3 separate regions of the Homo sapiens genome follow, and all the other regions are reported to be linked to region 3. The links are microRNA targets in miRTarBase. Many come from high-throughput screens and were not tested one by one. Region 3 holds a microRNA gene; each other region holds the end of a gene's coding sequence.
The links. The annotated mature microRNA hsa-miR-539-3p reads AUCAUACAAGGACAAUUUCUUU and lies in region 3 at 1,569-1,590, opposite strand. An mRNA with a match to its seed (bases 2 to 7 or 8) in the 3' UTR can be bound and repressed. Matches are read on the target gene's strand: a 7mer-m8 pairs with bases 2 to 8, a 7mer-A1 pairs with bases 2 to 7 and ends in A, and an 8mer does both.

Region 1 (4,195 bases), not on the chromosome of region 3:
AAGCTTCAGTGGCCCACTCCGGACCTCTGCCCAGCCTGCCATGAGGAAATTAAGGGCCTGGCCAGCTGGGATGAAGGCCACGTGCTCACATTCTTGAAGCAGCACTATGGCCGCGACAACCTCTTAGACACGTATTCCGCAGACCAGGGGGATTCCAGTGAAGGAGGAACCCTGGCCAGGGGTGAGGAAGAGGAGAAAAGACTCACTCCCCCAGAGGTGTCCCATGGAGACCGAGACACCCAGAGCGTCCGTCCACCTGGTGCACTGGGCCCCAGGCCTGCCCTTCCAGAGAGCTTGCATCACAGCTTGGACGGGAAACTCCAGAGTCTGGATGGGCCCGGGGCCCACAAGGAGGTGGGCGGGGCCGCACCCTTCCTCGGGGTTGACTTCTCCAGCCTGGACATGAGTCTCTGTGTCGTGCTGTACGTGGCTTCATCCCTGTTCCTCATGGTGATGTACTTCTTCTTCCGGGTGAGGTCCAGGCGGTGGAAGGTCAAGCACCACCACCCGGCCGTGTGAGTGCCCGGGTGCTGCCAGCCACGGCGGAAGCTCCCTTGGAGGCAGCCCTGCCCCGTGCCACCTGCAGCTTTAATATTTATGATCAGGGATTTTATAAACATGCGGGCCTGGTTTCACATCGGATGGCACCTTTTGGCTTCAAAGTCCTGGTTTTACAAACGCTCTTCTAACAAGGGAAGAACACGGGGTAATTTTGTGGGGATATTTGCATTCCTGGCGTACTCAAGTCTGTTCATGCTCCTTTTGCAGGTCTTACAGCAAAAAGACTTCTGTATTTTTACTCTTCTAGATGTGAAAAGAGGGTGCAGAGTCCAGGCCAGATAGTCTTCCCCACACACTTTCATCTCGTTTCCTCCACTCCGCCCCATCCTGCAGGGCCTTGTTTTTGTATTTGGAGAACCTCGCCCATCCCCCCCGCGGCTCCTGGCTCCCCCCCACTCCCCTCGCTCCCCCTCCCCCCGCTCCCCCCACGCCCCCTGCTCCAGGCTGCCAAGTGTTTTCCTTTAGCCGGGCGGGGACAGACAGAGCCGGAAGCGCAGTCGGCCTCTGCAGCCCCTCCAAGCAAGTGCTCCAGGGACTATCCTGTGTTTGTAGCTGCTTCCCTAGGGCAGGTTCCTGAGGGCTCTCCTTGTTCCTCCGGGTGTTCGACACCAGACGTGGGGATTTCAACAGGGGAGGAGCCAAGGAATTCTGTGGCTGTGCTGCGTTTCAGAAAATAACCCCCAGAGGCCTTGGGCTGTGGACCTGGGGGTTGGAAGGATGGGGGCTCATTTAACCCTCAGAGGCAGCGCCTTTGTCTGTCTATCTGGTGACAAGAGAGAGACAAGTAAATGGGGGCCGTTGGGACGGCGGGTGCCTGGAGGGCAGCTCTGGGCTCAGCGGGCAGTGCTTAGAGCACAGGCCCCTCTGTTGGGGGATGGGGAGGAGAGCAGTCTGCCCTTGGGAGCGTAGGCCCCAGGGAGACTTCTAAAGCCCCCCCTGTCGTCTGCTCTTCACCCAGCACCACAGAGGCACCTGCTGCACACACAAGCATCTCACTCGGCCCACGGAGGGGGCCAGGCTTCCTTTGCCTGAAGCTGTTTTGGGAAGGGTCTCCACACAGGCACTGATCTCCCAAGCTTTTGTCATGATGTCTTTTACCATTTGATAATTTTAAACATTGTTTTTAAACCCAAAACATTTAGTGGTCCGTTGCCTCTGAAGATGTAAACAAACAAATACACTATTTCTGGGAACATTTATATTGAGATTCTTTGTGGCTATTGGTGTGTCTCACAGGCAAAATTTGATTTGGCTAAAATAGGCTCAGATGTATTTGTGTGCCCGTGTGTGTGTGTGTGTGTGTGTGTGTGTGTGTGTGTGTATGAGAGAGAGAGAGACTTTGACGGTTGTAGATATTTTTTCCGCTTTGCCTACTTTATGTTGTATAATCATGTGTTTACTAACAAGTTGATGACATGGATGTATTCATAAGACCATGTAATATTGATGTGATTGTTGTCGCTTGAGAAAAAAAGGCAACAGCTGATTCTTTCAACAACTGTCACAGAATGGCTGGGCTGAGAACGCTGCCCAGGGCCCTGCAGCTGGCGGGAGAGGTGTCTGGTGGGAGCGGTGTCTGGTGCGTCAGCCTGCTGCTTCGTGTCTCACTCGAGAGTTGCTTCTGGTTTCACACTTTTTAACCCCTCTGTGCTTTAGCAGCCGTGACCTTGCCTTCATTGCTTCATCCAGTGCAGGCCTGGGTTATTGAAGACACCAAAGTGTTTCTCTTCCAGTTTGAAAACCAGGCAGGTTTACACGTGGGTTTCAGTGTATTTGCCTTTGAACCCTTCAAACTAAACTTTAGCCTTTTGGCTGGTGTTGAATGTCTTTAGCTGGGGTGACCTGGAGTGACCTGGGACGGTGTTGTGGTTTACCGTCTCCAGCTTCAGCCTTTCCAGAAACCCTTGTGGAGGGCAGTGTTGGCTGCAGGTTTCATCATATTGCAGTTTGAGGTCACCACTATTTGGGGAACAAGCTTGCGTCCTGCTGAGGGGCAGGATTTTCAGCAGAGCGTCGGTGGGGCTGGGCCGTCGTGGAGGTGGCCCCAGGAGTCATATGGCCATACTCAGACACACCTTGTGTGGCCTGCTCAGAGCTGGATGCCACCTTTAGGCAATGTTTAGAGTCTATTTTCTAAAGTTTTAAGTATTTTAAGAGGTATTGAGACTAATGAATATAATAGTTCAGTAATTTAAATGCTTATTTATTTTCAGTGGAAGGATTTTTATTAAAAAGAAGCTAATTGACATGGAAATGTCAGTGAAATTTCTTACCTGCAAGGAAAGTGAACATTTTGTATTTAAGTAAACTATAATGTGCACATTTTAATAAAGAAATCTGACATTTGAAAAAATGGTGATTCTTTTGAAATGTGAACCAGCTCTACCAGTGGGAGTTGTGGTAGAGGCGGTGGGTGCAGAATGGACCCCTCTTTTGTTCACGTACTGGACATCTGAAATCCTAGAGTTTCTCCTATCGAATCATTGGCTTTTGGGACACAGCCCAAGGGTCGGATGGAAAGTAGAAGATGGAAAGCAGTGATAGATCATCTCCCTGGAGCTGATCTGGACGAGACTCACAGGACAAGACCCTTGATTTTACACAGGTTAAAGGGCAGCTGAGATGCATGTCAGCTACACACTTCAAAGAGCACGCGCGGCAGCCCAGCCTGAGGGCACCTCAGAGGACCCCCAGCTTGCTTGAGTGGCCATCCCTCTGCTTCCTGGGTGTGAGTGTCCTGCTAAGGCTGTTTGTGGTGTTCTGTGGGGTGCCCTTGACCCCGTGTTGTCTTCTGCCCCTCCCCTACTTTTGCTGTGCCAGTGGGGGCAGGGCAGTGGTCAACAGTCTTGCCTGTGGCTGTGGAGGAAGCCGGTTGGCACCTCCCTGGCCAGGCTGTGCAGAGGCTGGCAGTAACTCAGTCACTCGTCAGGCACCGAGCAGACACCAGCCTGGGTGTGTACTGGGCGATTCCTTCAGGCCCTGCCTATGCCCAAGGTCTTGAGTCCTCAGCAGTGCTTTTGTTACAGGGGACTGCAGGTGCCTCTCCTCCTGGCAGCCCGGAGGGGTGCGGGCTGAGCTCCTCCCAGAAGTTGGGGGTTGAGTTCAAGGAGGTTAAGAGTGGAAAGTTCCCTGACCAGCAAAACACCTGCAGGAGAGTGCCCCAGTGAGCCCTGGGCTGGAGTTGATCACGCATGGGGCTGCCCCGGGGCACGGCCTGGGCACTGCCTTCCAGAGGCTGCACGCCAGAAGGGTAGGGTCAGTGTCCTCCTGCCCTGCGGCTGGACGACCCGCTTGCTGCGAAACTCGGCGAATCCCAGCGCCTCAGCAGGGCCTGGAGCTTAGGGAGGAGCGGGCACGGCCACCCTGGGTCTCAGAGGGGTGAGGGCGGGGGCTGCCTTGAGTGCGGCCCAACCCAGCCAGGGAGGGAGGCGCGCCCGACACGGGGCAGAGGCGGGGGTGGGGACCGGGGCGACGAGAGGGGCCCCGGGAGGTGGGCGGGCGCGCGGGCGGGGCGGGCAGCGGGCGCCTCCTTCAGCACCGCGGACAGCGCCAGGCCCAGTGGCTCCCGGGCTCCCTGCCCCGCACGACGCGGCGGGACTTGGGAGCCCCGAACCCTCCAGGGGACGCTGACCTA
Region 2 (4,195 bases), not on the chromosome of region 3:
ATGTAAGTTAGTGTTATTGATGTGCTTTTGCTTTATTCATTTAGAGATGGTTTCACTCTATCGCCCAGGCTGGAGTACAGTGGTGCAATCAGAGCTCACTGTAGCCTTGAACTCCTGGGCTCAGGCCATCCTTTCACCTCAGCTTCCCAAGTAGCAGGGACTACAGGCATGTACCACCATGTCCAGCTAGTTTTTAAAATTTTTCTGTAGAAATGGGATCTTGCTATGTTATCCAGGCTGGTCTCAAACTCTTGGGCTCAAGTGATTCTCCTGCCTCAGCGTCCCAAAGTGCTGGCATCACAGGTATGAGCCAAGTACCATTTACCAAGTGACAACTATGAAATACATGCTGGAAATAATAATCATAAATAAGCCAGTATATTTCATTTTCCAAATGCTATGATATAAATATATCACCTGATTTCCTCCTAACTCAATTCTCTCAGCAATCCTATAAGATGGGTACTATTATTATCCCCATTTTATAGATGAGGAAGTTGAGGCTTAAGGAGATTTAAATAATTTGCCTCACATGCTGCAACTAGTAAGTGGGAGAGCTAACAGGTCAATCTAGGTCTGACTCCAGGACCAAGTGGCAGTGAAGTTGGTTGGTCTTGTCCCCCCCCATCCAGGATCCTGGTGAACATGGACGACAACATTGTGAAGCATTACTCCAATGAGGACACCTTCCAGCTGCAGATTGAAGAAGCCGGGGGGTCTTACAAGCTCACCCTGACGGAGATCTAAAGGCCTGCGGGCCACAGCTCCCCAGGAGTTCAGTGCAGGTGTTTCTAGATCTTACGGTTTGGCAACTGCAGGTAACCCCAGTCAGCCATGTCGCCAGCACAGGTCTATGTCGAGGGAATGGGTTCCTTGCAGGTTGGAGGCGGGGCTGCATCTGGCTTGGTGGTAGCATTTAATCTATTGCATTGGTGTTTTTCAGATGAAAGAGAAATCCATATACCATTATGTTTGAATTTCCTGATATATACAGGATTTAAAGTGAAAACTTTATTCCAAGAGTTAACAGAGTCTCTGGGAAGCTTTAGGACATCTGCTACGTTATTTATCAAAATATTGGGATCTCTGCCTTGTGCCTACAGTGTCGTGGGCCTGCTCGCTAGCAGAAGTCAGAAAAGGCGATAGGCTTGGCTTTAAGGATTTCGTGCCCTTGCCTGAATTCAGTACAACTCCACTGCCTCACGTTAGCGGGAGCGCACCTGAAGAGTACGGGGGGAGCCCTCTCTCCCTTACCCTCTCACTCTCCACCAGATGTTTACTAAACAGGGCATGTTACTGAAATCTTCCTTTGCGACTTTCTCGGACATATCAACTGCCTTTCTCATGAAGAATTTTAATGGGTTACAGTATGAAATCAGTTAAGATAAAGCTGCATTGTATATAAGTGCAATATATTTTTGAAGGTCTGTAAATGTGTACATACATGTCTTATATAAATATATAATATATAAATATGGTGTCTGTGTACATATAGTGAAGATATGCAGTAAGAGCTACCTTAAAGACTTTCCCTAGACAAAGGTTAAGTTATTTTTTGATCGTGTATACCAAGCAGATAGAATACTGTGCTTAGTGGAACCCGCTAAAAACCTTTTTCTCTGTTTTTCCAAACACAGGCATTCTGTAGCATAGCAAAACCTTCTCAAATGACAGAGATTCTGTTTGCTGTTGAGAATGTTGTTATTTGGATTTCTGCACTGTTTAACAAATGAAGTAAAAGAAAAACACTACTGCAATCACGTCTTTTGTTATGCTAGTATCAGTCAGATGCACTTAGAGTGAAGAAACACTGTAATTACAGCACACAGATTGCAAGTATTGCGTACCAAGTGATACAACTCGAAATGCAGTTCTCATCTTCCTGTTTTGAGAAATGATTATTTTATCACGCATCAGAGCCTTCGTGCTTTGATTATCTTGTATGTTAACAATTCTAGAAAACATTCATGAATTCACAAAAATATGTTACTATGGCAGGGGAACATTTTGTACACATTTAAGTATATAAAAATACTAAAATATGTAATTTTATAACAAAGTCACGGGTATCTTTAGGTTCAGGGAACTAGACTAGGTCATTCGTGTAAATGGACTGGTAGTTACAGTCTTAGGTTAAAGTATTCTAATGAAGTATGGGAACTAAATTGCTGGTTTTCTAAGATAAGATATGGGATATGGGTCATATAACTTTTGTATTTTTTATGAAGTTGATTTTGTCTTGCGTGTTATTTTTAATTGTATCATTGAAGATGTATTTTAAACCAAAGGAATTAAATTTTATATGTCTATTTCGTAATATGTCATTTCCTGTTTTTCAATTTGACTTTGCACTGCTCAGTAAAACGTGAGAGCTGAAAAGCATCTCATTGCTAGCACTTTCTGCTTATTTCTTAATGTGTGCGCTTAGGTTGTTTTCTTCATGTTAACTTTTCCTTACTGATGCCTGAAATGATCCACGTAATTGTTAAGTCAGGGATCCCTGAATGATTTTCCAATTCTTACCAAAATTTAACCACTAAAGCTGAAGGTAAATGCTTTCATACCTAAAATCTTAGTATTCTTAGTGTTTAAAAGCCTAACAGAAAATACTTAGTTTAAAAATTTACCAATATTTAAATCATTAGAATCTCTAAAACAGGCGTCCTGAACATATTCCAGGGTAATCCAGGGCCTAAATATGATAGACACTAGGATATATTTTTAATGGATACAAGATCAGATTAATGACGTAAACTCCCTGATAGGGCTCCTGGGACATCTGCACTTTTCACAGTAACCCTCGGGCCAAAGTGGAGACTCTCCTGCAGCCTGGGTTCCCGTTCACTCAGTGCTTCCAGAGTCCAGCTCCACACAGGAAGCCTGGGGACCCTGCCAGCGCATCCTTTCTATGGGAGCCCTTCCTCACACCATGGGTCTCCTTCACCCCCTGGCTTCCCGGGACTTACCTTTGCCTCAAAACTCATCTCTTCCCGGGCGTCCCCAGGGCCATTACCTCTGGTTCCTCAGCCCAGCACCCACTCCCTGCTCTCACGGCTCCAAGTACTGACAGACACCTGCTGGCCCTCTTCTCAGCCTCTCGTTTCCTGGAGAGCAGGTTTTGGTGTCTTAGCTTTGGATCTCTGGCACCCAACCCAATGCTGGTTACATAGTTGATGCTCAGTGAATGATTCTGTAATGATAAAGCGACTAGTTTATCCTAGGAACTGCCTTCAAGTAACACAGTCACTTGCAAAACATCAGCAGGGAGCGTTTTTAGACATTACAGGCCCAGAAATCAGTCGGGGCTGGACTCGGACCAGTAGGCCACAGAGCAGGACCAGTAGGTGGAATTATCTGGGACTCAGGTGTGTGCCACTGTGCCTGGATTTCTGGCCTGGATCTTTGCAGTAACCCAACTGGACTCATCGTTTCCATCCCTGGGCCCCTTCGTTTTATTCCTAATCTAGGAGCCATGATGATTCTTCTAAAATATAAATTAGGACTCTGCTCAGAACCCTGCAGTAGCTCTCCGCTTCACTCATAATGTAGACGGGATCTGTCCTCTGGCCACTGACCTCAAATTACACCATAGCTGAAGGTCCTGCAGAGTTAGGCCTGCTGAGGTTACGCGATGTCGAGAGCAAATGTCGGCATTCCGGTAATAAATGCCTTTGACTCTTAGTTTTCCGTTGCTGAAAGTCATGTTGGAGACGTTTGCCCAATCTTGGTCATGTTTCCAAGAAGAAAGACTCGTTTTATGAGCCTCATGGGATATTGATGGTATTAATAACAAGATGAGTTGAAGGCTGAGCATCAGGATTGCCATTCTTAGCAAATACTTCTTTCTCCCTATTAAAATTCATCAGAAGCAGTTCACTTGCAGCTGGCAGGGCCAACGATACACCTTCAGTGTCCCCCCTCGGGCTCTCCTGGATTCCTCAGCCCAGCACTCACTATGTGAGGGGGTCTGGTCTGCAGCAACTGTGGTCAGCTTTCCAGCCCACAGGGCATCAGTCAGCCCATCCCATTGCTGAGAGTGCAGGAAAGACGGGGAGAGCAGGGGGTAGCATCTTCCCCAGACAGCGTTAGGAGGTTACGTGAATGTCAAACAGTAGAAAACAATCCCTGCAAAAATGCAGAGGCTGCCTCAGTAACATTTCTAGGGGACCAGCAATCTGGGGCATGTAACAGATCC
Region 3 (4,195 bases):
GATTTGATTTTAAAGAAAAGTAATCTCATGCTATTTACGCATGTGAAAGTGAACCCTTGTTCACAAACCAAAACATGGCACGTTGATTCTGGGCCGTTCTCCCACGATGGACGGTATATGGCATGTGGGGAGACAGGCGACACATATCACAGGGAAAGCACCTGGTCTCCAGCCCCAAACCACTGTGAGTGTTGTCCACAGACCGGCGGTATTAGCATCACTTGAGAACTTGCTAAAAATGCAGAATCTTGGTCCCTGAATCAGAATCTGCTTTTTAACAAGATCCCTAGGTGATGAAAATCTTAGGAGCATTTTTAAAGTTTGAGAAACACTACTCTAGCCAACTATTCATATGCACACGCACACAAACACACACACACACACACACACACCCCAGAGGTGCTGTCGACCACAACGTCTTATTCCATGAGAGTCTGTCTAAGATGGGGTGGTTCCCAAGGAAGGCACGAAGCCATGCCACGTCCACCAAGAATAATCCAAATACCCAACAGGCAGCTGCTTAGGAGCTGCCAAAAAGTAGTAATAGTAACAGGAAATGTACGGAGTTTTTACTAATGTTTGCATTCCCTACAGGAAGTGTTTCATACTCAGAATGAAGGCTACAGATAGGAGAGGCTGGACCCAGGTTCCCCGGTCCACCATCTACCTAGAGAGAGGCTTGACCCCGGCATCTCTCCAAGGAATTCCTCGTGGCTAAGATTTAATAACAAGAAGAGAAAGAGAGATGAAATAATTGTGAACATCTTCCAATAAAAAGATATGGCACCAAGCCCCTAAATGGCATCTCCACCCCAAAGCTAGCATTTGTCCAAGGAAATCACACTGGTGGCTTGCATTCTGAGATCACTGGATTCATCATTATAAATCATCAACACAGTCACACTCCATGGTGGGGCAGGCACCAATGTCCCCTCACTGAAGTCAGCACTGTGCTTTCAAAAACTTCTGAAGCAAATTTGGATACTAAAACAATGGTTGTCCGATATTAATCATCATAAATATAGAGACCATACTACGGACAGCCATTCTTTAAGCACCAAAGAACTGTGCCATCAAGAAGAGCTGGGCATCTTCTCCAAAGTTGGTGTCTCTTCCAGAAAGTTCTTCTCAGGTAGTCCAAACAATGAGGATTAGCAGGTCAGCTTCACACATTGAGAGTCAAGCCCATGCCTGGGGGTCAGTCACACTCTTGGGCAGGGGAAGGGGGTCTGGCCCCAATGATCGGTCCCTAAGGTTTGCTTCATGTCCAAGAAGTGCCTCCAAGAAGCAGGATTTGATAAGTAGCTTGAATGCTGCGTCACCCACAACACACACCCATGGCCAATGCAAATCCCTGATAGCACCAAGGAGTCCCGTGGCCCCCTGCCAAGCGTGGCCCCGCCTCCAGGGTTCTGAGGTTAGGGCACAAGTGTCCCCACCACAAACCAACTGCATGCGCCCTCATCCCCACCCAGGCGTGAGCCCCTGGGAAGGGCTGATGCGTGCATCCCTTTACAGAACTTGTCATGGCGTCCAGGAAGTCTGCCGAGGCAAGATTTGATACTCAAAAAGAAATTGTCCTTGTATGATTCATCATAAATAAAGCGAACACACCAAGGATAATTTCTCCTCAAGTATGAAACAGCAGCACGGACCACCACCTCCAGGTCTTTGGCTCAAGGTTAGATGGTGACTGCTTCGTGGCAAACCCAGTCACACACTCGCTCATGCACACACACCACGCACACACAGGCATGCACAATGCATGCACCAAGTTTGACCTCTCTTTAAGCACCAGGGAAGCAAGATGCCATAGAATCCTCACTCAGCTTGGCATCCTCGCTCAAGACTCCTTCAAAGCGTAGATAGTGGCCGAGGTCAAGAACCCAGGGACTGTCTCTCTTAAGTGGAGCAAATGTTCTCGGCACCCCTGCTGACCCCCACTGCATGTGGCATTCTGTATCAAAAGCCACTGTGTGAATGGCTTAGCTGCCAAGCATCAAGAGCATCACTAGCCCCCATTGTAAACACCGTGTATGCTCTGGGCTTCCTAGTCCATTCCATACCCGATGAAGGACTTGACTTCCATGTTTTGACACTGTTCCAAAAACCCATGGAGAGATTTTAGTCATAAAACCACCACCACCACCACCACCACCACCACCAATGATAGTTTCACAGCACACAAGGGTCCTGGCTACCACCTACGAAGTGCCGACCACGGGGCTCTGCTCTGAGCCGTGTACAAGTCTTAACTCGTTCAGCCCCAGCAGCCCCAAGAAATGGACGCCAATGTGATTCCCCTTTGACATGTGAGACAATGGGCACAGCACGATGAGATCCTTGCCCAAGGTTGGACGGTTAGTAAATGTCAGAGGTGGGATCCAAACACAGGAAATCGAGCTCCAGAGTCTGCGCTCTTGATACTGAAAAAGTGGATGACCCTGTACGATTCGACATGAGCAAAACGAACAGGACAGGGATAACCACTCTCCAAGTACCAAAGGTTAGCACGGAAAAGAAAGCCACTGCCTTGGGTGGACTTGGTACGTCTTCAAGGCGCGGTCCTGGGGATGAATTAGATGCTGAGGGTTAGTGGACCGGGTCACATACCCCAAGCAGAACATGCACACTCACGGACCGAGTAACAGCAGGGACCACAAAGCCACTACCCCACACGAGCGCCACCCCAGCCATCGGCCCGGGCTGATGACTTCCCGCTCAGGAAGCAGGGACCCAGACCACACACATCGTGCATGCTTTTGGCCCCGCCCACACTGCACCAGGAGAGGGGATGTCCCAGAGGCCACTGCCTTCCCTAAAGTCATCCAGGTGCCCGTGAAGTCCTCTCTGTGAAGTGGGGACCCGTGAACGATTTGCCACACACAAAACGGATACACACGGTCATGCACACACATACCGCATCCCTTGCTGAGTGTGGACTGGGTCCAAGACAAGGTTTGATACTCACAGAGAGCTTGCCCTTGTATATTCCATGTCAATAAACCGAATATACAAAGGGCAACCTCGCTTTAAGTACCAAACAATAGCACTGGGCAGGTTCCTCACTATCATTCACGGGGCCGGCCTCCTCTCCCGGGGTTCATCCTGGCGGGGGAGGGGGTGGGAGATGCGGGATCAGCAGACCAGGTGGCAAACACCACCTGCCAGCTGTGTGCCCATAGGTCAGCTCTCCATCCCAAAGGGGCCAGGAAGGGGCAGACGCCAGTGCCCCTTCACCAGAATCAGCCTCTTTTCCAGGCATCACTCCAGATTAGAACTTGTTCCTGAAAAGGAGATCCACCCCACGGGCCTTCCTGGGCACACGCAGAGCTCAGCTTCTCACTTTCTATAGGAATTCCCTGGGGTGGGACCACCATCTCCTTCCCAGTGTGGGCACCTCTCCAGGAAGTTTTCCTAAGGATGCACTCAGCACCGAGGTCCCAGGCACTGGATGAATTTACACCTTAGACAAAGCAAAGGCCCTGTGGTCACCATCCCTTCATCCATCTCACAGAGCCGTTGACACCAGTGTCATTCTCCATGCCAGCCCTTGCCCCACCCCTGCCAGAGGCTGGCATCGTGGCCATGAAGCCATGCTAAGAAAGAGCACAGGGTCAACAGTAGTAAACCCCACGTACCCCCAAGTAACTGAGGAAGCAGACCCACAGCCCATTCCCCACAGTGGTCTCTCCTTCAAGAAGGGGAGAGGAGCGGGAGCCGCCTGGTCCAGGTGGCAGGTTATGTGACTCATTACCCAGGCGTGGTGCTCACCTCTCTTCAGCTGGACGTTCGCTTTCCTTGGGCTGAGGATGCTGCGAATGTCCTTCCTGAAGCTGGCTTCGGGTCCAGATGACCCCCATGGCAGTCGGGGTGTAAAAAGCCGGCAGTCACACGGCCCAAGGAGTGTCTCCACAAACACAGAACAAGAGTCCCATTCTCAGGCAGCCATCCTAGGTGTGAGCAGAAAGCCAGCAGTCAGAGACGGGGCACAGACATCGAGGCAGAAGCAGGCGCCCTCTGACCTCCCACATGCACGCACCTGGTGCGGGGCTGACAGCTCCCACGGCTCATCCCCAGCGCTGCCTTCATGGGCAATCACAAATGACAAATAGAAGCAAACCATTCTTACAGATTCAGCCTGGGGACTGCGAGCTGGATCATGAACACCCAAGCATCAAAAAAAAAAAGCGCT

Region 1: miRTarBase lists QSOX2 as a target of hsa-miR-539-3p. Seed matches in the 3' UTR shown: 7mer-m8 at 1,880-1,886.
Region 2: miRTarBase lists GRHL1 as a target of hsa-miR-539-3p. Seed matches in the 3' UTR shown: 7mer-A1 at 1,368-1,374.

What each region holds. Positions count from the first base shown.
Region 1 is chr9:136,205,052-136,209,246 of GRCh38, reverse strand. QSOX2 (quiescin sulfhydryl oxidase 2) reads left to right here. Exons shown (of 12, transcript NM_181701.4): 12 at 1-2,914. The coding sequence ends at 519. LHX3 (LIM homeobox 3) reads left to right here and starts at 4,119. Exons shown (of 6, transcript NM_178138.6): 1 at 4,119-4,195. RefSeq lists enhancers at 1-260, 261-812.
Region 2 is chr2:9,999,961-10,004,155 of GRCh38, forward strand. It overlaps GRHL1 (grainyhead like transcription factor 1), which reads left to right. Exons shown (of 16, transcript NM_198182.3): 16 at 633-2,317. The coding sequence ends at 747. It overlaps LOC124905970 (a long non-coding RNA gene), which reads right to left and starts at 3,540. Exons shown (of 2, transcript XR_007086207.1): 1 at 2,967-3,540.
Region 3 is chr14:101,044,764-101,048,958 of GRCh38, reverse strand. MIR539 (microRNA 539) reads right to left here and starts at 1,638; the gene lies at 1,561-1,638. It overlaps MIR381HG (MIR381 host gene), which reads right to left and starts at 3,802. Exons shown (of 3, transcript NR_104192.1): 1 at 3,775-3,802. MIR381 (microRNA 381) reads right to left here and starts at 3,039; the gene lies at 2,965-3,039. It overlaps MIR487B (microRNA 487b), which reads right to left and starts at 2,504; the gene lies at 2,421-2,504. It also overlaps MIR889 and MIR544A. RefSeq lists enhancers at 2,193-2,693, 2,694-3,194.